Homo sapiens: one gene and its partners. The protein of the gene in region 1 purifies or fractionates together with the protein of each later gene. This does not show direct contact. Each region holds a gene or a part of one and is shown in the gene's direction. Other genes may lie near its edges. The genes, in order: FAM234B, TRIM13, SLC47A1 and FRMD5.

Region 1 (7,267 bases):
GTCTCATGTTTCCGAGCATATCTTTTCCTCCTGGTTTTTTGTTCTTAACTACTTTTTCGCATTCTTGATTTTGCTCCTGTCTCTTATTAGGCAAACAGTCGGTTGCTGTAGGTACAGAGATTAGTGAGACAGTCTTTCTCCTTAAGGATATCACCATTTAGTTGGGGCCGAGGTGGCAGACATGTAAAGAGTAGTGTTGGGAAAGGTGCAGAAGTGGAGATGCATTCGACAGTGTAGAGGAGGCCACAGCTCTTGTCTTACATGAGAAGCGTGTTCAGCAAAGATGACAGGCACTCTGTGTTCACATCTTGCTGCCAGAAGTGTGAGAGGGAGCTGAATACACAAGTGTGGTTGCTGCCTTACCACCATCCACTTGCAGTTTTCTGGCCTCTTGTTCATCTCTGCCTCTTATCTCCTTTGCCTGCTTTCCTTTTTTTATCTCTCTTGTGTGCTTTTAGGTGTCTCAAGACCAGCTGCTAATCTTGTATGCCTTTCGGGGATGAATGGCAGCACACTGTGGTCTAGTCTTCTCCCTGAGGAGGCTCGAGATATCACATGTTTGGAGCTGATGCCAGGAAGCTTGGCTGAAACCATCTGCCTTGTGACAGGGACACACAAGATGCTCAGCGCATTCAATGCAACGTCAGGTAAATACCATTTACCACAAAAGAACTTTGCTCCTACGAGCCATACTTTTGGATTAGAATAATCTGTTGGGTAGGGGACCTTTTGACTCTCACGTGGTGGAGTATCTGATTTACTGATCTGGAATATGGTTATTAAGAGAAATGAGAGAAAAGGTTTGGGCAGATTGAGTAAACAGATCCATGGTTCAACCTGTTTGGTGATAGGATGGGGCTGGAACTGAATTACCCAAACAGAAACTACCCTGAGGCCTTTGGTGTGTAAATAGTCTCCCAACTCTGTTCTTTGTACAAAAGACGACTGAACTTTAATTCTTCATATTTGGTATACATGGGGGCCATGTGTAAATTTGGCATTAACTACTTAAAAAAATACGTCAGTGAAGAAATAAAGGTTTGTTGAGGCTTGTTGACTGGCCTTTTAGCTTCTTACTGCATTCAGACATACATGACAAAAGGGAATGAAAAAGAATAACATGTCCTGAAGGCTCTTATAGAATCCTAAGTATATGGCCCATAGGCTTAGTACTGCTGGGCCGTGTGCTCACGTGGAGCGGAATAAATAACATCCTTCCCAGGTTTAGAGGTTGGAGTTTGGTCGCGGGGTGCTTCTGAGTGAAAAAAACTGGGATTTGAGTTAACTGTAGAACTGAAGCCATCTGGAAAACTTCCTATGATGCTGTGGTGCTTACTTATGTGACCGTGTGGGGGAAGGAAGCAGAGTGGTCTGGTCGGCTGCCCCTGGGGGTTCCTTAATAGTTGTTATAATCTCTAACAGACAGTTCCCTCACCCCAGGCAAGTGAGCCCTTCTTTGTTGGAAAGGATTTAGCACCTCCATTTTATCTAAAAAAATCTAGGTGAGAAATCATTGCATGGATTTGTTTGCCAGATACTTTAGGATTCGGATCACACTGCCTGCTTCCTCCTCCTCAGTAAGACAAAAACGAAAGGCAATAAGTAGGTAGGAGTTGCTGTCTGTTGTTCAGCCCCTTGCGTCTTTCTTTTCTGGCCTGGGAACATGGCATCTGCCTTTTCCAAAGGCAAGAAGTTGTCATAGTGACCAGCCTATGTGTCCTTCCTCAGGGAAAGCCATTTGGACTTTAAACCCAAACTACTTGTCCAACGGTACCTTGGCTGCCCCAGTTGTGGTACTGCCAGACTTGGATGAAGACGGTGTTCGAGACCTTGTGGTTCTGGCCATTGGGGAATTGCAGGTATGATCTCTATTAAATGTTTTTTGTTTCTTATAGGGACTGCTTCTATTTTAGTTGTCTCAGCTCCTAGTGTTACATTATAAATGCTGCTTGAAATGTTCTTTTTACAAGGGTTTAGGTTTAAGTAAATTCTCTTTGTGAGGTTAAGTGAATACTTGACCATTATGAACCCATTTTCTCTGGCAGCCTCATGGCTCCATGGACTGGGGTGTAGTGGAGCTTTAGAGTTAGTTAGGTCTGTATGCGAATTCCACCTCTACCACTTTATATCTTTGAGGCCTTGGGCAAGCCGTGGAGCCTGTCCAAGCTCTGGTTTCTTCATATGTAAAAAAGGCATGTTATATCTACTTACATCATTGTTATGAAAATTACAGCTAACATATTTAAAGTGCCTAGAGTAGTGCCTAATTTTTGCTGTGTATATGTATTTTTAGTTTTACTGTATTATATATATGTACATTTTATGTCAATTATAAAACAACAGAACAGGCTGATACAAAGTTCATAAAAGATACATAGGAAAAAATCTAAGTCAAGCAATAATAACAACAATGACCAAAGAAAGGAGTGTCATAATCTAGGCTGTGACAAGGCAGACTTTGATTCAGGACAGTGGCCCTTGAATTATGGTCCTAAATTATGATTTGCAGGAACTTCAGTGTACTGGTTACTCTGCACACAGATAAAATAAGAGTAGTCTTTCCCCCAAATCACAGGAAGGAATAAATTAATGAACAGAATAATCTCAATTTTAAGTTTTTATTCTGGAAGCGTTTTTCAGAGCTTTTGTCAAAGTTTCTCTAAGACTTTTTCTCAGACTTCCTAGTGTGTCTGCCAAGGAAATGCTTGTGCACAAAAGAGTCAAACAATCGGCAAAGAATGTTTGTGGAAAAATGTGGATATGGCTAATTTTGTCTCATTTGATAACCTATTTTAATTTTAATAGACCTTGTGTTTGCTGTTGTGATCTTTGTATTGCATATATGGAGTAGAGTTGTAAATTCTGGAGGTGAAATTATGTAGAATGGAATGAAATCTGTTAAGATTTTGTGGCTTTCTGCCAAGAGTCCCCCAAACTTAAGAGTGCCCCATCAGTCATGAGTTTTGAGGAGCACTGCTCTAGCACACTAAACTCTCCCTCACATTTGCAAGATAAAGGCAAGATCCAGAATGAGCTAAATTTCTGAAGCCTACTTAGTTTTAAGGGTTTTAAGCTTTAAGGGTACTTTATGTTCGTTTTCTTCAGCTAGCCAGTTGGTCTCAAAGTGGACCCGAACCAAGGATTCAGGAATTATTCATGTAATCTTTTTTATCCTAGCCATTGTGAATAGAGAGATTGGGGACTAGGGAAAATTTGAATTATTACTTCCATCAGGGAGCAATTCTTTGAAGGGAACATATGGGGAGACACGGCAAGCCATTGAACAAGTTTTTAAGTCGTGATTGAATTTAGAAATCTTGGTCTAACCATCCCGTCTGGCCGCTTATTAGCTGGTGGTGGTTGGCAGGATAGTGGCTCAGGCCCTTGGGGACCCTCCATAGTAAGGAGGTCTCCACTGGAGGAAGTGGCTTCTTGCCCACTCTTACTCTGTGCCCTTTGTGTTGGTCTCTACTCAGTGTATTGCCCATCTTGCCCTACAGAATTTACTTGTTTTCACAATAGGGTACAGCTAGGGCATAGTCTCAGTTCTGCTTGAAAAGTGGTAGACAGTTCTAGGAAAACCTTGTAGAGGCACTAGGTATATAGCGCAGCAGCTTCATCCTTGTACTGACCTCTTTTGACCTCTCTGCCAGCAACAAGGGACCCCAGGAACCTGTATAAGCTCCTGAGATGGAAGACTCTCTCTTCACAAGGAAGGAAACCTAAGTCTGTGACTTATAGTGATTGCGTTCATTGATCTGGGTTTAGAGTGAAGTGGGCTTGGAGAACTGGACCTGGTTTTTGATTACAGGAACTGATAAGGTCTAGAACATTAGTGGGAAGGGACCTTGAAGACCATTTGGTTAACTTTCTCACACCATGCTATGATCTCTGGTTCAGCATTACAGACATGTTGGCACCCCTACTCTCTTGGTGCACTCAGGCTGATGGGAATAACACTAATTTGTGAGGCGATCCATTTCATTTTTGGGCCAGCTCCAGAAAATTCTGTCCTAAGCAGAAAGAAATCTGCTTTCTCATAGCTTCCACTCATTGTTCCAGCTTCATTCCCATAGAGCTACTGTGAATGAGTCTAATCCCCTTTCTATAGGAAAGCCCTTTAACCATTAGCCTAGTCCCTCTAAGCTTGCTACTCAGGACTAAATATCCCCATTTCTCGTACTGTTCCTCATGCAACCAGGAAGTCCAAACCCCTCTTTTTCTTGATTTCTTTCCCTTTGCATTCTAGTATGTCCAAATCTCTTTTAAAATGTGGTACTTATATCTAAAAACAGCATTTTATTTGTAGTATAATTAATATATCAACCTAAGGGAATTGTTTCTTATTTTGATGTAGACTCTGTATTTCTGTTTTTGCAGCCAAAGATAATAATATTTTTTCTAAGATTTGCTTTCTGTTTGTAATCAGCTAAAGTACCTATATCTTTTAATGATTAATTATTAATAGACCAGTTTATTTTTTTGTGGCAGATTTTGACTCATCTTCCAGCCTAAGGTTTTTTTGAATTTTGAGTTTGTCATATGCCATATTAGCTATCCCTCTCAGCTTTGTGATAAACTTGAATTCTATTCTTTCAAGTCTTTGATAAGAATGTTTAATAGGAATGGGGCAATAGCACAGTGCTATGACATTCCTCTAAAAACCTCCCTCTAGGCTAGTATTGATCCCATAAGTACCTTTTCCTGGTACATGGCAAACCACATTTCTTTATCTTGTCCATAGAGTTCATGATGATAAACTTTGTCAAAAGCTTTACTGAAGTCAAGATATCAGTAAAATCCTCATATTTCTTAACTGGTGACTCTACCCCAAAAGAAATCCTCTAGAGCTGAAGTTGGCAACTGTGGCTTGTAGGTTAAATTTGGCCCACTACTTGTTTTTATAAATAGAGCTTTATTGGAACATCCTCACACCCATTCATTTATGTGTTATTTATGACTGCTTTCACACAAGAACAGCAGAGTAGAATAGTTGCTACAGAGATCATCTAGCTGGCAAAGGCTAAAATATATACTATTTGACCCTTCACAGAAAAAGTTTGCTGTTCTCTCTTTGAGAATAAAGTTGATGGTGTCCAGGCCCGACATCTGGTGTTCTGATGGGAGAGCACTGCCTCGATTAACTCTAGCTGGAACCAAATATTACTGGGGATTTCTGGTATTGAAGTAAAGACCCAGGGGCCAGCCATCCTATGTTAAGCTGTAGGCTAGAATTCTGTGCCTCAGGAGACTATTCAGCAAGCAACAATTCTGCTTCAGAGTAGCTGTCTGAGGTGCTTTGAAGATGCCCTTTGCCTGGCTCTAGTGAGGCAATGGGACATTTGCTTCACTTGCTTACTTGCAGGGAAATAAAGCGAAGCAGGTTTGGCTTTGTGCTTTCCAACTTGGGGGAGTGTTTCTGAGCCCGTGGCTTATGAGGAGGCAGTGACTGTCTGGAGAAGCCATTTCATTAGCAAACGATAGGGCTTCTATTGACTCCACCCCCCTCTCTTACTTCCTCAGCCAGATCTGTGCTTTCTGCTGGTGTCTGGCCGGACCGGAAATCCAGTGGGTCGACCTGTGAAGTACAACATCGTTGGAGTTGGGAATCTGATTGGTCCTCAGGTTTACATCACCACAAATGGGGCTGTCTACATCCTGTTTGGCTTTGGTAAGAAGCAAGGCTAGTTTTTGCTCCTGTTCCCCACTGGCATTTGTGATGAGGCCTTCCTTGTGAGACAGGGTGAAAGCTCAGGAACTCCTGACACCAGCCTTCCCATAGCCTTCTAATGCAGGGGCCTCTTACTGTCCCCCACCGATCACAGGCTATTAACTCTGCCTTCCCTTGCTGCCTCCTCTGAAGGGAAGACTCTTGTCCAGCACCCACTTAATCACCTCCCCACTTGTTCCGTGTTGTCCAGTCTGGGCGGGCTCTGTTAGACCCATCTGGTCAGGCTCTGTGTCTCTTGCTCAGATCCTCACCATGGGACAGTTCTGTTAAATTCAACTTCTCAGTGTTGGTTCTTCTGTGGTGCTAGGAAATATACAAGCTGTCGCACTGCGGGACATTTTTGTTCAGGCCCAAAATCGAGACAGCTCACCACCTTCTCTGCAGATAGAAGAGCCAGAATGGGAAAAGCGAAGATCCATCAACCTGTCTGAGCTCATTGATGTTTACAGGTAGGGCAGACGTCTGTCCTTGGTCACAGTGAGATCTCTTGTGAACTCACATGCCTTTGAGTCTCTAAGTTTGGTTGGGCTGGTGAATATGTGGGTAGAGGTTTAGGGGAAACAGTGCTTATCTTAATTTACCATCTTCTGATCTGGTTAACATGAGTTAGAAATTTTCTTCTCTTGGTAACATAATGCGTTGATATCTATGTGTTGGTGACCACATGTGATCACTCCTCAGGTAGGATGCAAGGAAGGATACTTAGGGCTCTGAGTCAGAGTAGGGAGGGAGATAGACTTATCTAACTGTTTGTGAAACTGTGCTGAAGGATCTGACCTACTCTTTTCTGTATTTTTCTCTTAGTTGAAGCATCATTTTGACAGAAGCAAGGATAGTGTCCATGAAATCTTATTTTTTATTTTTATTTATTTCCTAACTAGAAGCATGTAGTTTGTCACATGCAGGGGATTTTACCCATTTAACCCCAAGCCTGGCTAATAATTGTTTCATTCTTTCCTACCAGAAGTTCCAAATCATTTTCTAGCATTTTCTTAGGCAGTATCATGGTGTTTTGGTGACTTTGACAGGTATGAAGTAGAATGGTCCCAGTGGCACTGAGCAAGAACTAATTCAGTGAAATGTATGCCATGGGCTGCTGCCCAAGCTCATTGGCAACCTCTGGCCTCCTGTCCAGATCTCTGTCTGCCTTCCCTGTGATTATCCTTGGCTCTGTTGCCTTTCCCAGAGTATCCAGTGTGAGAGATATTGCACTGTAGCACTTTTCCTGTGAGTTCCTTTTGAACTTGTATGGAATTTTCTGGGGATCCTTGGTTTCTAAGGTCAAGAAAATGAGATTCAACTGAAACAACAGTACATCCCACTTGATGAGATAATGGTGGGGCATGAATACAAGAGTGTGTACAGGTGTACGTATACTGAGAGAAAAAGCCAAAGTAAATGGCTCAGAAATCTCATCCAAGCCAGAGACTAACCGTTGGGGTCTTATTTAACCCAGTGATGGTGTTGAACTACTCCAGATGGTGAAGGCACCAGATTCCAACTGCAGCAACCTTCTGATTACAACCAGACAAAGCC
Region 2 (7,267 bases), on another chromosome or scaffold:
TCTACTATAAAACCATAAACTGGCTGGGCGTGGTGGCTCACACCTGTAATCCCAGCACTCTGGGAGGCTGAGGTGGGCGGATCACCCGAGGTCAGGAGGTTGAGACCAGCCTGGGCAACATGGTGAAACCCTGTCTCCAGCAAAAAATACAAAAGTTAGCTGGGCATGGTGGTGGGCGCCTGTAGTTCCCAGCTACTCAGGAGGCTGAGGCAGAGGAACCGCTTGAACCCGGGAGGCAGAGGTTGCAGTGAGCCGAGATTGTGCCACTGCACTCCAGCCTGGGTGACGAAGTGAGACTCTGTCTCAAAAAAAAAAAAACCCAAAAAAATAGGGCCCAGCGTGGTGGCTCACGCCTATAATCCCAGCACTTTGGGAGGCTGAGGCAGGTGGATCATGAGGTCAGGAGTTCAAGACCAGCCTGTCCAAGATGGTGAAACCCCGTGTCTATTAAAAATACAACAAAATTAGCCGGGCGTGGTGGCCGGTGCCTGTAATCCCAGCTACTCGGGAGGCTGAGGCAGGAGAATTGCTTGAACCTGGGCAGCAGAGATTGCAGTGAGCCGAGATTGCACCACTGCACCCCAGCCTGGGCAACAGTGAGACTCTGTCTCAAAAAAAAAAAAAAAACGCCAGGCACGGTGGCTCACCCCTGTAATCCCAGCAGTTTGGGAGGCGGGTGGATTGCCTGGGGTCAGGAGTTTGAGACCAGCTTGGCCAACATGGTGAAACCCCGTTTCTACTAAAAATACAAAAATTAGCTGGGCGTGGTGGCAGGTGCCTGTAAATCCCAGCTACTCTGGAGGCTGAGGCAGGAGAATTGCTTGAACCCGGGAGGCGGAGGTTGCAGTGAGCCAAGATCACACCATTGCACTCCAGCCTGGGTGACAAGAGTGAGACTTAGTCTCAAAAAAAAAAAAAAAAGCCATAAACTAATTAACCCTGCAAGCTCAGCTTGTCCTTTAAATACTGTTTACCTTCTAGATATAGTCCAGTCATGTATGGCTGTTGAAATTACTGTTAAAAAAGTATTCGCTTTTTTTTTTTTGAGACAGAGTATTGCTGTGTTGCCCAGGCTGGAGTGCAGTGGCGCTGTCTCGGCTAACTGCAAGCTCTGCCTCCTGGGGTCACACCATTCTCCTGCCTCAGCCTCCCAAGTAGCTGGAACTACAGGTGCCTGCCACCACGCCCAGCTAATTTTTTTGTATTTTTAGTAGAGACGGGGTTTTACTGTGTTAGCCAGGATGGTCTTGATCTCCTGACCTCGTGATCCGCCTGCCTCGGCCTCCCAAAGTGCTGGGATTACAGGCATGAGCCACCCGTGCCCGGCCAAGTATTCACTTTTTATCATAGATGGCCTACCGATTAAGTCATATGTTATTGTTGATAATGTGATATTGTTGATAATGTGATATGTGCATATATCCCTGAGTAAACTGAATGTAGAAATATGTAGTACTCTTTGGTTTTACAACTATAGAGATGAATGTATATTTAAAATAAACTTGTGGCCTGATGCAGTGGCTCACACCTGTGATCTCAGTGCTTTGCGAGGCTGAGGCAGGAGGATTGCTTGAGGCCAGCTAGTAAGACCTGGTCTCTACAAAAAAAAAAGTAGCCAGGCGTGGTGGTGCATGCCTGTAGTCTTAGCTACTTAGGAATCTGAGGCAGGAGGATTGCTTGAGCCCAGAAGTTTGAGGCTGCAGTAAGCTATAATTAGGCCACTGTAGTCCAGCCTGGACAACAGAGCAAGACCCTGTCTCTCAAAATAAGAATTAAAAATAATAAACCTGCATTGAGAAATGGTATTGCCTGTATTAGGGATCTCAAATATTTTGGTCTTAGGACACTTTTACACTCTTAAAAATTGAGAATCCTGGCCTGTAATCTCAGTGTTTTGGCAGTCTGAGGTGGGAGGATCACTTGAGCCCAGCAATTTGAGACTAGCCTAGGCAATATGGTGAGACCTCATCTCTACAAAAAAAAACTACAAAGAAAAAAAAAATTAGCTGAGTGTGATGGTGCGTGCCTGTAGTCCCAGCTACTTGGAGGTTGAGGCAGGAGGATGGCTTGAGTCCAAGAGGCAGAAGTTGCAGGGGACTGAGATTGCACTGCTGTACTCCAGCCTGGGTGAAAAAGCTGTCTCAAAAAAAAAAAAAAAAAAAAAAAGAGAATCCCAAGAACTTTATGTTTGTACTGTCGATATTTACTCTATTAGAAATTAAAACAATTTTTAAAAAATACTCACGTAAAATAACAATGATAAACCCATTACAAGTTAACAAATAATTTAGGAAAATAACTATTTTCCAAAACAAAATTAAGAGAAGCATGGCATTGCAATAGAGGCCTGTAATGAATGGCTATTTAATAGAAGACAGCTGGAGTCTTTTGTCTGCTTCTGTATTTAACCTGTTGGAATATATTATTTTGGTTGAAATAAACGAAGAAGGCTGGGTGTGGTGGCTCATGCCTGTAATTCCAGCACTTTGGGAGGTGGAGGTGGGACGATTGCCTGAGGGCTGGATTTCTAGACCTGCCTGGGCAACATAGTGAGACCCTGTCTATAAAAAAATCCACGGCCAGGCGCGGTGGCTCACGCCTGTAATCCCAGCACTTTGGGAGGCTGAGGCGGATGGATCACCTGAGGTCAGGAGTTCAAGACCAGCCTGGCCAACGTGGTGAAACCCCGTTTCTACTAAAAATACAAAAATTACCTGCGTGTGGTGGTATGTGCCTGTAGGCCCAGCTACTTGGGAGGCTGAGGCAGGAGAATCACTTGAACTCGGGAGGTGGAGGTTGCAGTGAGCCAAGATAGCACCACTGCACTCCAGCCTGGGTGACAGAGTCAGACTCCGTCTCAAAAAAAAAAAAAAAAAAAAAACAACAACAACAAAAAACACTAAAACTAAAAATTAGCAAGGCATGGTGGTGCACACCTGCAGTCTGTAGTTACTTGGGAGGATCTCACTTGAGCCCAGTATTTCAAGGCTGCAGTGAGCTATGATCATGCCAGTGCACTCCAGCTTGGGTGACAGAGTGAGACACCCCATCTCTTAAGAAAAAAAGAAAAGAAAAGGAAATACACAAAAATCTAGGCTTACACAGATATGTAGTTGGTAAAGGAAGGAATATTATTTAAATAGCCTTTTCAGGTAATTTAATCTTTTTTTTTTTTTTTTTTTTTTTCCTGAGGCAAGGTCTCTCTCTGTTGCCCAGGCTGGAGTGCAGTGGTGCTATCTCGGCTCACTGCAGCCTCTGCCTCCTGGGCTCAAGGGATTCTCATACCTCAGCCTCCCGAGTAGTTGGGACTACAGGCGCATGCCACCATGGCTGGCTAATTTTTTTGGTATTTTTTTTGTAGAGGTGGAGTTTTGCTATGTTGCCCGTACTGGTCGTGAACTCCTGAGGTCAAGCGGTCCACTCTCTGCAGCCTTCCAGAGTGTTAGGATTACAGGCGTGAGCCACTGCTCCCAGCCTGAATCTTCTTGTGATACTATACAAAAACTCAGCAAGTGCTAGTTTCTTTGTTGGAGTATGGAATCTGAAATTGTTTATGAACCTGTTGGTCTTTCGTGAACTTCAAATGGATCTTTTACCCATGCCTGATTTGTAACATGCATTAGTGACTTGAAATAGTATTCACTGTGTTTTGCAGATCTCCAAATATTGACACATTTCATTATACAGTACTCCTTTCCCCTCAGAAAATCCTCACATTCATTAATATCACTGCCCATCTCATCATAAAAGTCTTTAATTAATGGGAAGCTGTCAGGCTCATAAATATCAAATGTTTTCCAAAATTCTAATTTTTACATAAAACCCAGCCTTTTCATTAGCAAGAGATACTGTCAATTGTTTTCTTTGAAGTAGCAAGCTCATTTTTTTTCCCCAGAAAATGTCAGGTAGCTAAGTCTGAATAGCCATAGTTTATCATTTGTTCTTTCAGAAGGTAAAAATGGTGTTCCATGAAAAAAAGCAGCTGGTTTAACTTGCCGCTCTTCACTTAAGTGCTTTTTCTCCAGACAACATCTGCCGGTATGCAGAAGTGCTTTGTGCGTACTGCCTATTTTGTCACGCAATATATTAAAAAACTGTACACAGGCTCAAGACTTAATAAAATGAATAATTTTTACTGCTGCATCAAGAACATTCTTAAGTGAAACCGGTACTCCAACCCCAATTTGGGTGGTGATGAAGAATACAATTCAGCGCTTCTTACAGCTTTGCTCGATCCCTCCTAAGGCTTCAGCAGTGTCTACACACCATTGCTTTTACACCATTGGTACAAATGTTGACATGGTGCAAAAAGCAAGTAACATCTTAGTGTCATTACGAAAATAGTTTTGATCTCACAGATGCCCTGAAAGAGGGACATCCAGGTTTCTGCCCACCACATTGTGAAAATTGATGATTCTAGATAATACAAAATGGCTTCTGTTACTGTTCTGGTGGTTTAAAAACAACAAAAAACCTCATTTAGTTCTCTACCTAGAAGAGTGAATTGCAACTCTCATCTTGTGCTTTTACCTGTGATTTTAAAAATTGTAATCTTGCCTTTGAAACAAAAATATGCCAATTCATAATAAAGTCTACATGAGAGTACATGTTTGGATTTATATTTCTGTGCTTCTTTCTTTTATATAACATACCATTTCATATTTGTGGGCCCAGAGTAAAGAGCTCATTCTGTTACAGACACTGAATAGCCTTGTTTTTGTCAGTAGTCAGCTCTGTTTTAAAACAATTGCTTGGGTCCTGCTGGCTCAACTTGCAGTTGTCCTAGTCCTGAGTCTTGTCTTAGCCAAAGACTGTTGTTGGAAAGCCCACACAAAGGCCTTGTGTATAGGATGCCCTACTATTAAAGGAGCATGTTCTAGTCTCAGTGGATTAAATTTGCTTTGGTGTGCATTCCCTTACCAAATTTCTCACTACTTTGTTTGGCTGGTTATTTCAGTGAAAAATCATTTTAACGTGAAGGCAGATTTCTTCTAATTATTACATAGTCCTAGTGGTGACGGTTATTGGAGTAAAATAATTTTTTTTTTTTCTGGTAGGATGTGATGGAGCTGCTTGAAGAAGATCTCACATGCCCTATTTGTTGTAGTCTGTTTGATGATCCACGGGTTTTGCCTTGCTCCCACAACTTCTGCAAAAAATGCTTAGAAGGTATCTTAGAAGGGAGTGTGCGGAATTCCTTGTGGAGACCAGCTCCATTCAAGTGTCCTACATGCCGTAAGGAAACTTCAGCTACTGGAATTAATAGCCTGCAGGTTAATTACTCCCTGAAGGGTATTGTGGAAAAGTATAACAAGATCAAGATCTCTCCCAAAATGCCAGTATGCAAAGGACACTTGGGGCAGCCTCTCAACATTTTCTGCCTGACTGATATGCAGCTGATTTGTGGGATCTGTGCTACTCGTGGGGAGCACACCAAACATGTCTTCTGTTCTATTGAAGATGCCTATGCTCAGGAAAGGGATGCCTTTGAGTCCCTCTTCCAGAGCTTTGAGACCTGGCGTCGGGGAGATGCTCTTTCTCGCTTGGATACCTTGGAAACTAGTAAGAGGAAATCCCTACAGTTACTGACTAAAGATTCAGATAAAGTGAAGGAATTTTTTGAGAAGTTACAACACACACTGGATCAAAAGAAGAATGAAATTCTGTCTGACTTTGAGACCATGAAACTTGCTGTTATGCAAGCATATGACCCAGAGATCAACAAACTCAACACCATCTTGCAGGAGCAACGGATGGCCTTTAACATTGCTGAGGCTTTCAAAGATGTGTCAGAACCCATTGTATTTCTGCAACAGATGCAGGAGTTTAGAGAGAAAATCAAAGTAATCAAGGAAACTCCTTTACCTCCCTCTAATTTGCCTGCAAGCCCTTTAATGAAGAACTTTGATACCAGTCAGTGGGAAGACATAAAACTAGTCGATGTGGATAAACTTTCTTTGCCTCAAGACACTGGCACATTCATTAGCAAGATTCCCTGGAGCTTTTATAAGTTATTTTTGCTAATCCTTCTGCTTGGCCTTGTCATTGTCTTTGGTCCTACCATGTTCCTAGAATGGTCATTATTTGATGACCTGGCAACTTGGAAAGGCTGTCTTTCAAACTTCAGTTCCTATCTGACTAAAACAGCCGATTTCATAGAACAATCAGTTTTTTACTGGGAACAGGTGACAGATGGGTTTTTCATTTTCAATGAAAGATTCAAGAATTTTACTTTGGTGGTACTGAACAATGTGGCAGAATTTGTGTGCAAATATAAACTATTATAAAATCTGTTTCAAGTATGCAGTTTTCTTTTGTTAGAAATTGTTAGAGAATAGAGAGTGGTAATTCAGATTTGGTCAACGATTCTAGTCACATATTTTCCTCCAAAAGTATTCCTTCCAAAAATAATCTATACATGTTCAAATTAGGTAGCATAAAGATAAAAGTGAAATTTAGTAGTATAGGCCTGAACCTTTTTTTGTTTAAAAGAGTGCTTTTGAAATAAGCATCCACCCCAAATGTTGGTTGTATTTATGCTGTGATAAAAATAGGTGAGAGATCATATGATCTAATATTGTATTGATGGAAGTATAGGTAGTATAGTAGTGATTGTTCTTCAAGCATGCAGTAAAGATCACTTTTTTTTTTTTTTTTTTTTTTGAGATGGAGTCTTGCTCTGTCGCCCAGGCTGGAGTGCAGTGATGCAATCTTGGCTCACTGCAGCCTCTACCTCCCAGGTTCAAGTGATTATCCTGCCTTAGCCTCCTGAGTAGCTGGGATTACAGGCGCGTGCCACCACGCCCAGCTAATTTTTTGTATTTTTAGTTGAGACAGGGTTTCACTGTCCCTTAAGACCATCCTGTTAGCCAAGATGGTCTTGATCTCCTGACCTCGTGATCCGCCTGCCTCGGCCTCCCAAAGTGCTGGGATTACAGGTGTGAGCCACCGTGCCCAGCCAAAGACTGCTCTTAAAGCACCTTTTTGACAGTGAACATGGTCTAAAAAAGGGAAGATATTGTAGAAGATTTCACACACACACGCGTGTGTGGGAGACAACTAAAGGTATTGAAGGTACTAATTAATTAGATTTCCAAAATTTTCTACAGAGAGTTAATTATCACCAAAATGTGAATGGTACATACAAAACCTGGCATTTTCTTGTGATAAGTTTACATTTTTAGGAGAGTGGAGCTTTCAATCTGCCCTTTTCTCCTTTGTTTTTGTAGTTTTCACCAAAGATGATCAACTAGAAATGTTAAGTGGC
Region 3 (7,847 bases), on another chromosome or scaffold:
CATGGGAATGTGTAAAATATCATGACCGCAAACATTCAGAAAGCACACGCCACAATATCCTGAGAAAGTACCCACTAGAAAATGAAAAGCTAATCAGAATTTAAAATTACAGGGAAGATACAGACGTGGTCAGAACATGGTGAGTATGAGATGCTGAATAAGGCCTCCCAAAGATGTCCCCATCCATCTACTGAAACCTGTGAATACATAACCTTGCATGGCAAAAGGACTTGGAGATGTGATTACTACAAGGATCTTAAGATGCAAAGGTTATCCTGGGTTATCGGGTGGGCCTAATGGAATCTCTTTTTCTGAGAGGAAGACAAGAGAGTAAAAGCTGGAAAAAGGAGACGTGATGAAAGAACAGAGGCTGCAGTGATGTGCTTTGGAGATGGAGGAAGAGGGAGGCGGCATCTAGAAGCAGGAACAGGCAAGGGAATGGATTCTTCCTGAGCCCTAGCAAGAACGCAGCTCTGCTGACACCTTGATTTCAGCCTCACGGAACCCATTTCAGGCTTCTGACCTCTGTTAAATAGTAACTTTGTGTTATCATAAGCTATTAAATTTGTGGTAATTTGTTACAGCAGCAATCAATAAACACTTATCATGAATGACCAAAATTAATTCAAGAAGAGGTTAAACAAAACCCTGAATAGACCAGCAACTTCTAAATAAACAGAAAACCTTTTATTTTTTTTCTTATTTTTAAATAAAATACCCCTTCTATAAAGGCATCAGATGGTCCTCTAGGTGAGTGGCCTTCAAACCTTCAAGAAACAGATCATTCTTATGGTATTTGAATAATTACAGAGCCTAAAGATTCACGGAAGCCAGGCGCAGCAGCTCACGCCTGTAATCCCAGCACTTTGGGAGGCCAAGGCAGGAGGACTGCTTGAGCCTAGGATTTCAAGACCAGCCTGGGCAACATAGTGAGACCCCTGTCTGTATAAAAATAAATAAATATAAAAATCCTGAATATAATATTAGCAATAAATCTACCACTATATACCTGTTATAGTATACTATTATGAATAAGGGAAGTTTATTCCAGGAATCAGTGACAGCTAAACATTAGGAAATCTACAATGAACTTACACTAACAACCGAAAAGAGAAGAAAAATTTGATTATTTCAATTAATACTAAATATATATATATATATATAGAGCACAGTGGCTCATGCCTGTAATCCCAGCACTCTTGGAGGCCAAGGCAGGAGGATCACTTTGAGCTCAGGAGTTTGAGACCAGCCTAGGCAATATAGTGAGACCTCTTTGTCTCTATAAAAAATATGAAAATAGGCTGGGCATGGTGCCTCATGCCTGTAATCCCAGCACTTTGGGAGGCCAAGGCAGGTGGATTACCTGAGGTTGAGACCAGCCTGACCAACAAGGAGAAACCCCAACTCTACTAAAAAAAAAAAAATTCAAAATTAGTCGGGTGTGGTGGCACATGCCTGTAATCCCAGCTACTCGGGAGGCTGAGGCAGGTGAGTTGCTTGAACCCAGGAGGCAGAGGTTGCGGTGAGCCAAGATCGCACAATTGCACTCCAGCCTGGACAACAAGAGTGAAACTCTGTCTCAAAAAAAAAAAAAAAAAAAAAAAGGAACAAGAAAACAAAATTAGCCGGGTGTGGTGGCACATGCCTGTAGTCCCAGCTCTTCAGGAGGCTAAGGTGGGAGAATTGCTTGAGCCAGGGAGGTCGAAGCTGCTTTGAGCCGAGATCAAACCATTGCATTCCAGTCCAGGCGACAGAGAGAGACCCTGTCCCCCCGAAAAGAAAAAAAAAAAACCCTGATAAAATTCAATTTTAATACATGCTTTTAATAATATATTTCAGCAAGTTAAGAACCGTATATGAACATACTTATGACTATTTATCAAGCATCAATAACAAATTCATCATATCCCTAGTCCAGTGAGTCTCCCATTCCCTAGATGAGTACTGATTAGACTAGGGATATGATTGAAATAGAAGACAGAATTTTAACGAGGTGCATTCTTTCTGAATAAATCTGCAGATATAATGCAATGTCAATCAAAATCCTAACACTTTCCAAGTAACAGGGTTCTTTGTTCTTTTAATTGTTTTGTTTTTTGTTTTTTATTGAGATAGGGTCTCACTCTGCTGCCCAGGCTGGAGTGCTGTAGTGCAATCATAGCTCACTGCAGCCTCAAACTGCGGGGCTCAGTCGATCCTGTCACCTCAGCCTCCCAAAGTGCTGGGGCTACAGGTGTGGGCTACTCACCTGTACAATGTGCTCAGCCAACCACACGTTGTTTTAAAAGCTATTTACCAGCCAATAGAGCTACTTCTTTCCTCCTTACTTTTCTTTTTCAGAGTTTTTGTTATATCTTTTCCTGTTTACACTATCAATTGCTTTTAGAATCATTCTATTAAATTTTAAAATAATGGAATACACAGTAGTGGACTAAAACCTAATATATTAATTGAAAATTAATTTTCCTGTGCTACTTTTTGGAAGGAAGTCACTGTGTACAATCCACCTTTAAGGAGTGAGGAGTTATGCTCTGTATCACGAGGACCTTTTGTTTTTTGTTGCTATTGTGAAAGATTTCTTTTAGTATTTTCATATATGTTATTACCAATATAAAGGACTGATATGACTTGTTGAAGAACTTCTATGTAGCAACTTTATTAAACCCCTTTATCAATTCTATTAGCTTTTGTTCATATTTTATTTCTTTGGGTTGTGTGGATTTTTTTTAAGAGATGGGGTCTCACTGTGTTGCCCAGGCTGGTCTCAAAACTCCTGGGTTCCAGTGATCCTCCCACCTCGGCCTTCCAAAGTGTTGGGATTATAGGCATGAGCCACTGTGCCTGGCCCGGTCTGTCAATTTCTACTGTGAGTAATCCCTTTGCCTTTTCTTTCCTAACATTATACATTACATTTCCATTTCCTGTCTTATTACATCAGTCAGGACTTCCAGAAAATTATCAAAAAACAGCAGTGATCAGAGATCTAGTGAATATCCTCGGGTATTTGTCTGTTGACACTCTCAGTTCTTTTGGGAAACTGCGCTACTCCATATGTACAGTCCTTGTGGGACGAGACCAGTCACAGGGCACCTAACCCTAACCCTGTAGGTTCAAAGCTGGGTGCATGGTCCAGGGCCAGCCAAACATCAGACCCTATTTTCCCACCCAGGGCGATTGTTCCAGAGGTGGGCAAGAAACCTAAGCAGGGCCAACCAGATTTTCTCCCAGTTTTTTGTTTGTTAGTTTGGAACCAGAAGAGAGGAGGGGAGGGCCTTACTTTCTGGTTTAACAGACGGGAAAGATAGGAACGAGGGTATCAGAGGCCACCACTGTCACTTGCACAGGAAGAGAAAGGCTGCCGGCAGAGGAGGAAGAGAAACTACGGAAAGAATCCCAAGGGGCGAGGAGAAGGGAGGAGAGGGACAGAGATGGGAAGAGGGACAACAAGAATGATCTGGTTTTGTTTTTTTTTTTTTTTTGAGTGGAGTCTCCCTCTGCCACCAGGCTGGAGTGCAGTGGCGAGATCTCGGCTCACTGCAACCTCTGCCTCCCGGGTTCAAGCAATTCTCCTGCCTCAGCCTCCCTAGTAGCTGGGATTATGGCGCGCGCCACCATGCACAGCTAATTTTCGGTACAGACGGTGTTTCACCATGTTGGCCAGGATGGTCTCGATCTCTTGACCTTGTGATCCGCCCGCCTAGGCCTCCCAAAGTGCTGGGATTACAGGCGTGAGCCACCGCGCCTGGCCTAATGACCTTGTTTTCAAATCCCTGAATCCAAACTTCCTGATTATGTGAGCCAAAAAATTTGTTTTCCATTTTCTCTACTTACATTGGATCATTACAACGGAAGGAATTTTGACTATTAGAGAAATCAATCTTGTCCTGGTAACTGACACTTATTAGGTAACGGCTGGTGCCAGGCTGAGGGCAGGTGGCACTGACTCCGGTCCTCCGCCCAGGCAACCCCAGTCTTCACAGCTGGCGACGAGTGTTCTTTCACGTTTGCAGATGAGGAAGCTGAGGCTCTGGGAGGAAAGCGCGCTGCTCCTGCCCTTCTGGGCCGCAGCCTCTCGTACTCCCACAGCAGGCTTGATGGATAAACTTCCAACACGACCAGCTGGCACAAACTGTGCTACTTGGCAAATGGGAGCATGTTGCTCTATCCTGGTAGATTCTAAGTTCTCTAATGGAACAACTGATGAGAGGAGAGGAGTATGCAACACCCTAACCAGCATCAAAGGGTGTACCCAACTCAATCTGCACAGCAAATGCGCCCAACCCCACACACCCCGCGGGGTGCTAACCGAGTCACGGCTCGAGGCCTCTGGGTCCTTCCACGCCAGGTCATTCAGAACCTGAAACCCCCAGCGGAGGTGGAGAGCCGGGGTGAGTCCTGGCGTCCGAGACGTGGAGGACCCAGCCCCCGGAGCGCGTTCCGTTAGTTTACAGAGCTTTTTCAAACTTTGCCTTCCAAGTGCAGGAGTTCCTTGGTCTTTGCAAGACCCGCAGGCGTCCGCAGTGGTGCAGAGAGAGGTGCAAGGGGCGCGCCCAAGGTCGCAGGCTGCCTGGCTGCGCGCTCAGTCGGGCCCCCGGGCGCCAGGCGCGGGGCGGGCTCTGGGCGGGCGGCCGGGGCGGGGACTGCAGAGCAGGCTGCACTGCGCGGTACCCACTGCCGGCCTGCGCGGTACTCACTGCCGGCCTCCGCGGTACCCACTGCCGGCCTCCGCGCTACCCGGCCGCAGCGCGCGAGTCACATGGAAGCTCCTGAGGAGCCCGCGCCAGTGCGCGGAGGCCCGGAGGCCACCCTTGAGGTCCGTGGGTCGCGCTGCTTGCGGCTGTCCGCCTTCCGAGAAGAGCTGCGGGCGCTCTTGGTCCTGGCTGGCCCCGCGGTGAGTAAGGTGGCCTCAGTGGCAGGCCGGTACCGGCGGGCTGGGGACCTGGTGATTTCTGCCTCCGCGGGTGACTTTGGCGGGCTTTGGGGACCGAGCGAGCTGTCCGCCGGCGGGCTCCGGGGAGCATCGTGCCAGGAGCCGGGCGGGCACCCCAGCTCCTCTGCCTGCGTCCCGGCCGCTTTCCGCTCCGCACCACCCGACTGGGGGCCCCGCGGGGCACTGCGGGAACGGCTGGTACGCGCCCGGGCGCATGTTGGCTCGGAGAGGCCGGCGGCTCCAGCCTCCTGCGCCAGGAGACACCGGAGAGCTGGGACCTTTGCCCCTAACGGGGCTCTACCAGGTCCAGGCTGCATTTGCATCCGGGGGTGCCTTCTCTGGGAGCTGATTCCGGCCAATAAAACGCAAGTTGCCTGAACTTCAAAACACAAGGGAACTTGTTTCTTTGAAAAGTAGCGGTCAAAAGTTCGGGAGCTCTGCGATCTAAATAATCCCGAGGCACGGAGGAGGGGGTGCGTGGTCTGTCGTGGACTCAGAGCTGCGAAATGATTTCTTCAGAATTCAGTCAACCTCTACCGAGGAAACCAGAGGCATCCTGTACCACCCCCTCCCCGCCAGTAATTATGTATGTGAAAGAAAAAAGGGGTTTTAATGTGGTTCTTTGTGGGGTCGAGGTGTTCTTATCTGTGGGATTCTTTTCTTTTTAATCATTAGGTTAGGGCTGTTTCTGCCTTGTCTCCTAAAAATAATGTGGTTTTAAAAACCACAAAAACACAATCCTATCCACGTTCTCCTGCCAGCTTGGGTGGTTTTCAAACCGAGAGGGTAGGACGCGGCACAAGAAGCAACTGGTATGCACTTAAGGCGTGAATAAGCTTTTGACTTTGAGGCCCACATTCTGCACCTGCGCGGGCTGAGGGGGGCCGCTGTGCCTCTGGAGTGGGGGCTCGGTAGTTTGTGGGATATTGTGGCACCCGCTGTGGTGTGCAGGACAGCAAGGGTAATGCCGAGGTCAAAGCCATGGAATAAGATCCATCAGCCATGCTTTCTCACAGACCAGAAAGAACTCATGATTTGGGGCTGGGCGCGGTGGTTCACGCCTGTAATCCCAGCACTTTGGGAGGCTGAGGCAGATGGATCACTTGAGGTCAGGAGTTCGAGACCAGCCTGGCCAATATGGTGAAACTCCGTCTCTACTAAAAATACAAAAATTAGCCAGACGTGGTGGCGGGCGCCTGTAGTGCCAGCTACTCCAGAGGCTGAGGCACGAGAATCGCTTGAACCTGGGAAGTGGAGGTTACAGTGAGCCAGGATGGTGCCACTGCACTCCAGCCTGAACAACAGAGTAAGACTTGGTCTCAAAAAACAAAACAAAACAAAACAAAAACACCTCATGGCTGGGCGTGGTGGCTCACGTCTGTAATCCCAGCACTTTGGGAGGCCAAGGCAGGCGGATCACGAGGTCAAGAGATTGAGACCATCCTGGCCAACCTGGTGAAACCCCGTCTATACTAAAAATACAAAAAATAAAAAATAAAAATTAGCTGGGCATGGTGGCAGGCGCCTGTAATTCCAGCTACTTGGGAGGCTGAGGCAGGAGAACCGCTTGAACCCGGGAGGCGGAGGTTGCAGTGAGCCCAGATCGCGCCATTGCACTCCAGCCTGGGCAAAAAAACACCTCATGATTTGGAATCTCAAGACCTGGGGCTGCGTGCCCTGCTTTGACCTCCGAAAGTAAGTCAGGAAGCAGCTGTGCAGATTGAAACAGCCTCCTAACCTCTTCTGGTCTCTGCATATTCATTTGTAAAATGGAGATAATAATCATGTCTTGGTTCAACACTCCCTCACAGAGCTGCTGTGAGAAGGGGCTTTCTAAGGCTATTATTGTTTTATTATTATTATTATTTTTTGAGACAGGGTCTTGATCTGTCGGCCAGGCTGGAGTGCAGTGGTGTGATCACAGCTCACTGCAGCCTCAACTTCTGGAGTAGCGGAGATTACAGGCACACACCACCATGCCTGGCTAATTTTTGTATTTTGGGTTAGAGATAGGGTCTCCCTGTGTTGCCCATTGCTTGAATTCCTGGGCTAAAGCAATCCTCCTGCCTCGGCCTCCCAAGAGCTGGGATTATAAGCATAAGCCACCTTGCCCAGCCTGTTATTGCTTTAATAGTATAGCAATAATAATAATAATAATAATAATAATAACAGGGCAGGTTTCTGAAATCCAGCCCTCCCAGTAGCCTGATCCCCTTGATGTGGGGGACCTCTCCAGGTCTCCAGGGATGAGCACTAGACTGACATGCTGGGGACCTCACCTTTTCTCTTTGTATGTACATATATGTATACCATTGTGTTTATTACAAATGTCATGCATATTTACTGTAGAAAAAAATAGAAAACCAAGACCAACAATAGGAAAAAACCCTCTGAAATCTCACCGCTGAGAGGTAATTTGGGAGCTTTCCTTCTAGTCCTTTGTGTGTGTGTGTCTCTGCTTTGTGAAAATGTGATTGTAGAGTTTTGCTACCTGCTTAGTCTCTCATGAAGTGTATGTGGACCGGCCTGGGTCTGTCTCCCATCTCTAATCCCATCTGCTATAAAGTTTTCTGTTTACTAAAGGGCATGGGATAAGGAGAGACCACCCCCTTCTTTTCCCATGCTCATTGTCCAATACTTTCTTCTCCAAGTGTCCAACATAACATGAGGAAGATGCCCTGTCTGGCTCTCCTCTCTGTAATTTTCTCTCTCATTTGCCATCTCCCTTCCAGACCTCTCAAGTTAACCCTGACCCTTGAGGTCTCACTGGGCTTTAAATGAGGGCTTTGTAAAGAGAGTAACCCATAACACAATGGAAATGTGAGCCGAATGGTGCTTATTTCTCAAAAGATGCGTCCATTTTATCCTGGAGAAAGCTTGAGGAAGACTGGATTTGCAAGGGAGGGAACGTGCAGAT
Region 4 (7,187 bases), on another chromosome or scaffold:
CTCTTGCTGGAGAGGGGAAGCTATCTTCAGCCACATGAACCAGAATGGAAGCCTGACAGTAAGGCCAGGCCTGTATCTAATCCATAGTCCATGAGGCTTTGAAAGTAGCTATGTCATACGTCCAAGTTACACTTCAGATTATTCTTTTTTTCCTAAATATTGTTAGGAGTTATAGCTTGGTCTTAGCTGTGTTGGGGGAAACTTTGATGGGAAGGGCCTGTGTTTGTCATGTCTTGGTGAAGAGAGGGCAGTACTCCTTCCTGCCAAAATCTAAAGAAATGGTGAAGGTTGCATTGGCTAAAGAGAGAGACCAGTGTCCCAGAACAGCAGGGTATAGAATATCTGAAGCAGAGACACGAAATGCTTTGTTTAGTTTTTTCAGGCATACGTGGGGGATAGTACCTCCCCTGGGGACTCCCTCATAGTAGAGAAGGAAAAGAAATTCAAAAGACGGCTGATATTCTGATAATTTGGAAGGTGGGGGTTCAGAGCCATTATAATTTGGATTCTTATTTTTAAATGTGGCCTCCTTTATACTTAAAGACACATGAAAGCTATGGCACGCTGGTTCTCAAGGGCAAATAAGGCCTTTTATTAAATAAGCCCTTTCCATTCTGGGCATCCTAGTTAATAGATTTGAGGAAAACAAAGATAAACAAAATATTTCTGTTTGGTTTTACTTTTTATTTTATTTGGAGACAAGGTCTTGCTCTGTTGTCCAGGCTGGAGTGCAGTGATGCAGTCATAGCTCCTGGCTCAATTGATTCTTCTGCCCAGTCTCCCAAAATTCAGTTTGGTTTTATATGAGCCCTTCCTTTCTAGTTCTCCTTATGCTTCTTCTCATGAGCTTTTTTGTGGAGACATACATCTAGATTCTTGCTTTTCTTCCATTATTTTTTCATTCTCTGTATTCCTCACAAAGTGTTTTGTATCAGAGAAGAAGGGAGAGTTTGAAGTTCTCTCTGGATATTACACCTAAGCATGAATGAATATCTAACTGGTCTTTCGGTGAGGTGAGCATCTAAGCAGATGTGATTTTTTTTAATTCCTTTTTTTTTTTTTTTTTGAGACAGGATCTGGCTCTGTTGCCCAGGCTGGAGTGCAGTGGTGTGATCTTGGCTCACAGCAACCTTCCCCTCCCCCTAGGCTCAAGCAATCCTCCCACCTCAGCCTCCCCAGCAGCTGGGACTACAGGTGTGTGCCACCACACCCAGCTAATCTTTGTATTATTATTATTATTATTATTGTAGCTATGGGGTTTCACCATGTTGCCTAGGTGGGTCTTGAAATCCTGAGCTCAAGCGATCTGCCTGCCTTGGCTTCCCAAATGTTGGGATTATAGGCATGAGCCACTGCACCCAGCCTCAGACATGATTTTCTCAGACTGAGCAAGGATTCTACTTAACACATTGACATAGGAAATACAGTCTCACCTCTGTTGATTGCAACTATGGCCATACTTCGAAAAAAGACTGCATTCAGTTCCTTAGAGCTTTTCTGGATTCATAGTGCTTTGCCTTTTCATTCTAACAGCTGCTTATTTGGATAACCTGTTAAAAACACTTTCCTACCATCACACTTATGGACTTCCTCTAGCTTGGACATTTTTTCTTGCTCTTGTTGATTCTATAACAAACAGTAACTTTTGCCTTCAACAAAAGCTCTTTCAGTTTGAATTTTTTTTCCTTTCTTTCTTTTTTTTTTTTTTTTTTTTGAGATGGAGTCTCGCTGTCTCCCAGGCTGGAGTGCAGTGGCCAATCTCAGCTCACTGCAACCTTCGCCTCCCAGGTTCAAGCAAATCTCCTGCCTCAGCCTCCTGAGTAGCTGAGACTACAGACACATGCCACCATGCCCGGCTCATTTTTGTATTTTCAGTAGAGACAGGGTTTCACCATGATGGCCAGGCTGGTCTTGAACTCCTGACCTCGTGATCCACCCACCTCGGCCTCCTAAAGTACTGGGATTACAGGTGTGAGCCACTGCGCCCAGCCTGAAATATTTCATTATCTTCTTACAGCTACATAACAAAGCTGAGCTTTGTAGAATATCACTTTGGCATATTAATAATTTTACTTGTCTCCAAGATCTTCCTGAAATTTTGAGTTTCTTCACAGGTCTTCTTCCTCTGGGATTTAAGTGCTGTAGAACACCTGTCAATTCCATTTACTTCAGTTCATCAATTTTTTTTTTTTTAGACCGAGTCTTGCTCTGTTGCCCAGGCTGGAGTGCAGTGGCACAATCTCAGCTCACTGCAATCTCTACCTCCCGGGTTCCAGCGATTCTCCTGCCTCAGCCTCCCCAGTAGCTGGGACCACGGGCGCATGCCACCACACCCGGCTAATTTTTGTATTCAGTTCAACACTTATTGAATACCTATTATGTTTCAGGCATCAGACTACCTGCTGAAGCTACAAAGTAGTGGAGCGCATGCCTGGTTTTATGCCTGGAACACTTGACTTACTAGTTCTAGACTCATAACTAACTCCATCCAAATTGCATTGAAAAGAGAATCCTGCTCCTATGGCTATTAAATGCCACAAAGGAGAATGCAACCAATTAAGAGCAGTCCAGGTTACTAAGGTGATAGAAAGAAAAAGGGGGAGGGAGAGGGGGAGGAAGAGAGAGAGAGAGAGAGAGAGAAAGAGAGAGAGAGAGAGAGAATGAAAGAGAATGAATCTCCCCATGCAAAAAAAAAAAAAAAAATTGGGGAAAATATTGGAATCCAAAGACACTAGGGAAGAAGCATACTTTAAAGGCGGGATAGTTTTCTAGGCTAATGTAGAGTTTCATTTTTGTTACACATTATACCTATAAACAAGAACAGTGCAAATGAAAGTAATAGGAAATTATGCCTATTTCATTATTTTAAATTAATATATTTATTACAGCATTAATGTTCTATGTTGACACGATTATTTTTTTTTTTTGAGACGGTGGCTTGCTCTTGTCCCCCAGGCTGGAGTGCAATGGCCGTGATCTTGGTTCACTGCAACCTCTGCCTCCTGGGTTCAAGCGATTCTCCTGCCTCAGCCTCCCGAGTAGCTGGGATTACAGGTGCGTGCTACCATGCACGGCTAATTTTTTTGTATTTTTAGTAGAGACGGGGATTCACCATGTTGGTCAGGCTGGTTTCGAACTCCTGACATCAGGTGATCCGCCCGCCTCGGCCTCCCAAAGTGCTGGGATTACAGGCTTGAGCCACTGCGCCCGGCCGACATAATTATTTTATAACATTTCCTCACATCAAAAATCTTTGAGGGAGAATATCTCTTATTGAAGTTCTGGTAAAAAACCTTGAAGTCTGTAAATTTGGGGTGACAAAGAGAAGGAGACAATTCTTTGTGATGTATACCTCCTGACATACTATGTTGTTCTATTGAGAAAGTCTGAAGACATAATTTCCAGTTCTAAAAGTGCAAGGAGAAGATTCATTGCTTCCTCTGCTCCCTACCAGCTGAAGGAGCAGTCTCCTTTTGTCTTCTGAAATAAAAAGGAGGCAAAGGGTGTTAGAGTGGAGGGTTTTTTAGGGGATTAAACCTGGGTACTTCAGAACCTCTGAGGTCCCTTTAGCTTTTATTTAAGTAGCTCCTGTTTCCCAAAATAAGAGGGCTGGAGCACAGAGGCCAGACGGGCCAACTTAGGGTACAGCACAGGTCGGGGGCAGTCGCCCTATCTGGAGCGAGAGGTATCCGCATTCTGCAGGTGCAGGGACTGTGATCCAGCACCCTGCCGCCTCCTCGCTCCGGCTCCCAAGAGGGCGGGAACCGCGGTGTTGCAGGGTGCGAGGCTTGGCTTCGGAAACGCAGATCAAGTGTATTTCAGGCGGCAGACATCAATCCAGTTGGGTGCTCACACCTGGCCCGGGGGAGGGGAAACAGCATCCATAGGAACCACGGGGCGGAGAGGAACCCCTCGTTTGGGACGCTAGAGGGCTGCTCCGGCTTGACTAGGTCCGACTGCTTTTCTGTGATTGCTTCTTTATCCCGCCCATCATCCCAGTACTCTATCTCGATTGGCTTTTCGGTCTGCCACTCGGTTCCGCCGCGCTGACCCCCATTGGCCCCCTCCAGTTGAGGCCCCGCCCCGCGAGCTGGGCACGGGCACTGGGGCGCCGAGGAGACAGAGCCCGGCGCTTGATCTGGGCTGGGGGGAGGCGGTGGCGGCTGAGGGAAGGAGGAGGATAAGGAGGAGGAACGAGGCCAGCAGGAGGCAACGGCAGCGACGGGGCCGGGGTGATGGTGCAGGTGCCTGGGGTCGGTGCGGAGCTGCCGGGCTGAGGGACGCCTGGTCCAGGGTCCGCAGCGCCGCCGCGTCGCTCCCGGGCGGGCGGGCGGGAAGATGCTGAGCAGGTTGATGAGCGGCAGCAGCAGGAGCCTGGAGCGCGAGTACAGCTGCACCGTGCGGCTGCTGGACGACAGCGAGTACACCTGCACCATCCAGGTCAGCGCCGCGCCGCCCCGCCCCGCCCGCGGGACCCCCTTGTCCCCCAAGTCTGGTCAACTTGGCCGGCGGCGGCCGCCGCCCAGGGGTCGCCCCAGCCCCAGCGCCGTGCTTTGTCCGTTCCTGGTTGCGGCGGACCGCCCTAGTGCAGGGCGTCTTCACCGGAGCCCCTGCCGGAGCCCTGGCACCCGGTGTGTCACCGCCGCCGCGGGGCGAGTCTCCGCGTCCCACACCCCTAAGTCCTACCCTGCTCTCCCTGGGTGAGGGCGCCCCGTCCTGGTTCCTCGAGCCCGCCCGAGTAAGGTGCACCTTTCCGGGGCGCCCGGAGGGAGGCGGGTAGGGCGGTAGGCTCCTAGCCCGGCCGCCCCGTCGGGGGCGCAGGCTTTGGCTCTCTGCCCGGGCAAGGACGTATGGCTGGCTTTTCTTATCTTTCTTGGGTTGGAAGGATAATGGTTTATGTCATAATTCCTCCCCCCACCATTTGTGAGTCAGAGCTTTCAGAAGGTAGAACTGAACGCGCAGCCCATGCGGAGTGGCCTATTGAAGGAAGCCCAGTCCTCTGGGTTTTAGAGATTTAGGCCCCCTCCCGCCTTTTGATCCCCAAATTTTATTGTGTTGGGCGGTTCTAGGGGACGTGAGGTAAAGATTTAGCAACAAGTCCCAGCGATTTGGGGCTTGGAAGTGGCCAGGAAGAATCGGCGACTTAGGAAAAACGCCAACAATACGGTAATGCTCAACAGCATTTCTTTCAGAACCTGGTATTTTTGAAGGGATTTTTACAACCTCTTGCTCATGTTCCTTCGCTACTGCTGTGTGCACGTCAGGAGTAGTAGTCTTTCCCGGGAATGCAGTCACAGCCCTCTCTCCTCCCTTATGAAAAAGTCAGAGATTGAAAACATTGACAATGCTCCCGTGTTTAGTTCATCAGCCAGGAGGATCCTGCGCTCATCGCCGGAAGCTGCTCTTTGTGGAGAAGCTAATTGAGCTGGACCCAGAGGGGTCTCACCTGATCCTTTGCCTTTGCAGCAGGAAAACAGGAGGAGGCTTCTGGCTCAGATGTGACAGACAAAAACTGTCGGCCTGGGTCCTACCCTCAGTGTCTTCTTGCCCCCCGCCTCCTTATTTATTTATTTTTGCTGACAGTGCTCAATCGCGGAAAATAGCGGTGTGTGAGAAAGACACTGGGTAGTGTATGAGAGCAGCTGGTCTCTGCTGACTCCGTGCTCAGTTCAGCCTTCTCCTCACTTTCCCTTTTCTCCCTCCCCTCGAAACCAGCTCTGGGCATAAGTGCTGACTGCTGCCAAAGATCCATGAGGGTAGAGAAAGAGCACAAAATCTCTTTTTAAGGCTACTTAAATACAGACTAAGCAGTCATAAAGATGCTAGCCATCAAGTGAAAGGATTTTTGTAGTTGAATATGATAGAGAGATGCTCTGTATTATTTCCTTGCTGAATGAGTGGAATACTACTTTTTGTTCCTATTGTATCATTGTGCCATGTCCAGTTTTTTTTTGCTTTTTTTGTTTTGCTGGGGTATGAGAATACATTGAGTTGATATCTTCACCATTTGAGTATATTGTCTAGAGCTTTTTAAAAGTCTTTATCCTTTTGTTTTAAAATTTAAAGCATTTATCCAATAGCATATCAAGGGGAGTGTGAGATTTAGACTTTATAAGTCCTAAGAATACTTTTGGGGTATGTGAAATAATTTCCGAGGCAGGTCATTAACTTTTGCCAAGGTGTAGAATACAAATAAAACACAATTCACATCACCATTTCGCTAGAAATGATTGTTAACCTTGTGGTTTTAAAGTATTGCAGTGAGGCAAATAGTTATTTTTTTCCCAGTTAGTGGAACCTTTGAGGTTGCTTGATTGGTATTATAATTGTGGGTAGTTTTTATTACCATTTAGAAAAAAAATATTTTTGAGTTAAATAGGACTTATTGGATTTGTGCTTGCTATATCCCACTATAGCTGTACTTATTTTCCTACTGCTCTCATTTTACATTATTACAATTTAATTTTATAAAATATCTAGGCCACCTAAAAAATTAAGCTTGGTGTAATATGGCCACACTGTAGTAAGTGTCCACTGTCTAGACATGTTAATGATTGTGCATTGTGATTTTTGCATGGAATCTAAAGAACACAGGGATTGTTAAGTATATGTAATGTTGTCATTCTTTGGCATCACTTTGGCGAATTGCTTTTGTTTTTACCCATGTGAGGAAATGTAGCAAAAAGACAGTATCTTATATGAAATTAACATTTTCTGCATGTAGCTTTTTTGAACATTTAGAAATTGAGCTTTTCTTATCAGCTTTTCCCTTCATGCATTTCTGTAGTGAGTGTGTGTGTATATGTGCATGTGCTTATTTGTTAAATACTGGGCATAGGATCTTTTAAATCAGTATGGAAAGGATCTGTGAACTTCTTATTAGGTTAAGCAATATTCCCAACATTTTAGGCATTGTAGCACTGTATATTTTATGGTGATAATTTGAACTCATTTTCCTTAAAGTGTTGTATGCCATATTTTTGTTTAAATAAAGTATCTATTTTAGAATGATTTTACTGCCTTAGCATAATCAGAGACTACTTAGGATATTACAGAATCAGAAATGTATCACTGGGTTGGAGTCATGATAGTTCCATTTGGTAAATTTCAGTTATAAGAAATTCTGTCAAAGTATTTGTCTATCCTTTCATAATGCAGCATTTATTCCGATCTGGCATTTAGGATGT

Evidence for each region.
Region 2: the proteins of FAM234B (region 1) and TRIM13 purify together in Homo sapiens (affinity purification with mass spectrometry; 2 studies listed by BioGRID and IntAct, with this or other methods). This does not show direct contact.
Region 3: the proteins of FAM234B (region 1) and SLC47A1 purify together in Homo sapiens (affinity purification with mass spectrometry; 2 studies listed by BioGRID and IntAct, with this or other methods). This does not show direct contact.
Region 4: the proteins of FAM234B (region 1) and FRMD5 purify together in Homo sapiens (affinity purification with mass spectrometry; 3 studies listed by BioGRID and IntAct, with this or other methods). This does not show direct contact.

Annotation. Positions count from the first base shown.
Region 1 is NC_000012.12:13,061,117-13,068,383, forward strand, and holds part of FAM234B (protein FAM234B), read left to right. Parts: intron 1-458; coding exon 459-647; intron 648-1,728; coding exon 1,729-1,859; intron 1,860-5,523; coding exon 5,524-5,671; intron 5,672-6,038; coding exon 6,039-6,180; intron 6,181-7,187; coding exon 7,188-7,267.
Region 2 is NC_000013.11:50,006,878-50,014,144, forward strand, and holds part of TRIM13 (E3 ubiquitin-protein ligase TRIM13), read left to right. Parts: intron 1-5,057; coding exon of another isoform or gene 5,058-5,063; coding exon 5,064-6,287; 3' UTR 6,288-7,267. UniProt on the Homo sapiens protein: Endoplasmic reticulum (ER) membrane anchored E3 ligase involved in the retrotranslocation and turnover of membrane and secretory proteins from the ER through a set of processes named ER-associated degradation (ERAD).
Region 3 is NC_000017.11:19,529,184-19,537,030, forward strand, and holds the start of SLC47A1 (multidrug and toxin extrusion protein 1), read left to right. Parts: upstream 1-4,670; 5' UTR 4,671-4,756; coding exon 4,757-4,891; intron 4,892-7,847.
Region 4 is NC_000015.10:44,192,206-44,199,392, reverse strand, and holds the start of FRMD5 (FERM domain-containing protein 5), read left to right. Parts: upstream 1-4,121; 5' UTR 4,122-4,338; coding exon 4,339-4,440; intron 4,441-4,946; exon of another isoform or gene 4,947-5,166; intron 5,167-7,187. UniProt on the Homo sapiens protein: May be involved in regulation of cell migration. May regulate cell-matrix interactions via its interaction with ITGB5 and modifying ITGB5 cytoplasmic tail interactions such as with FERMT2 and TLN1.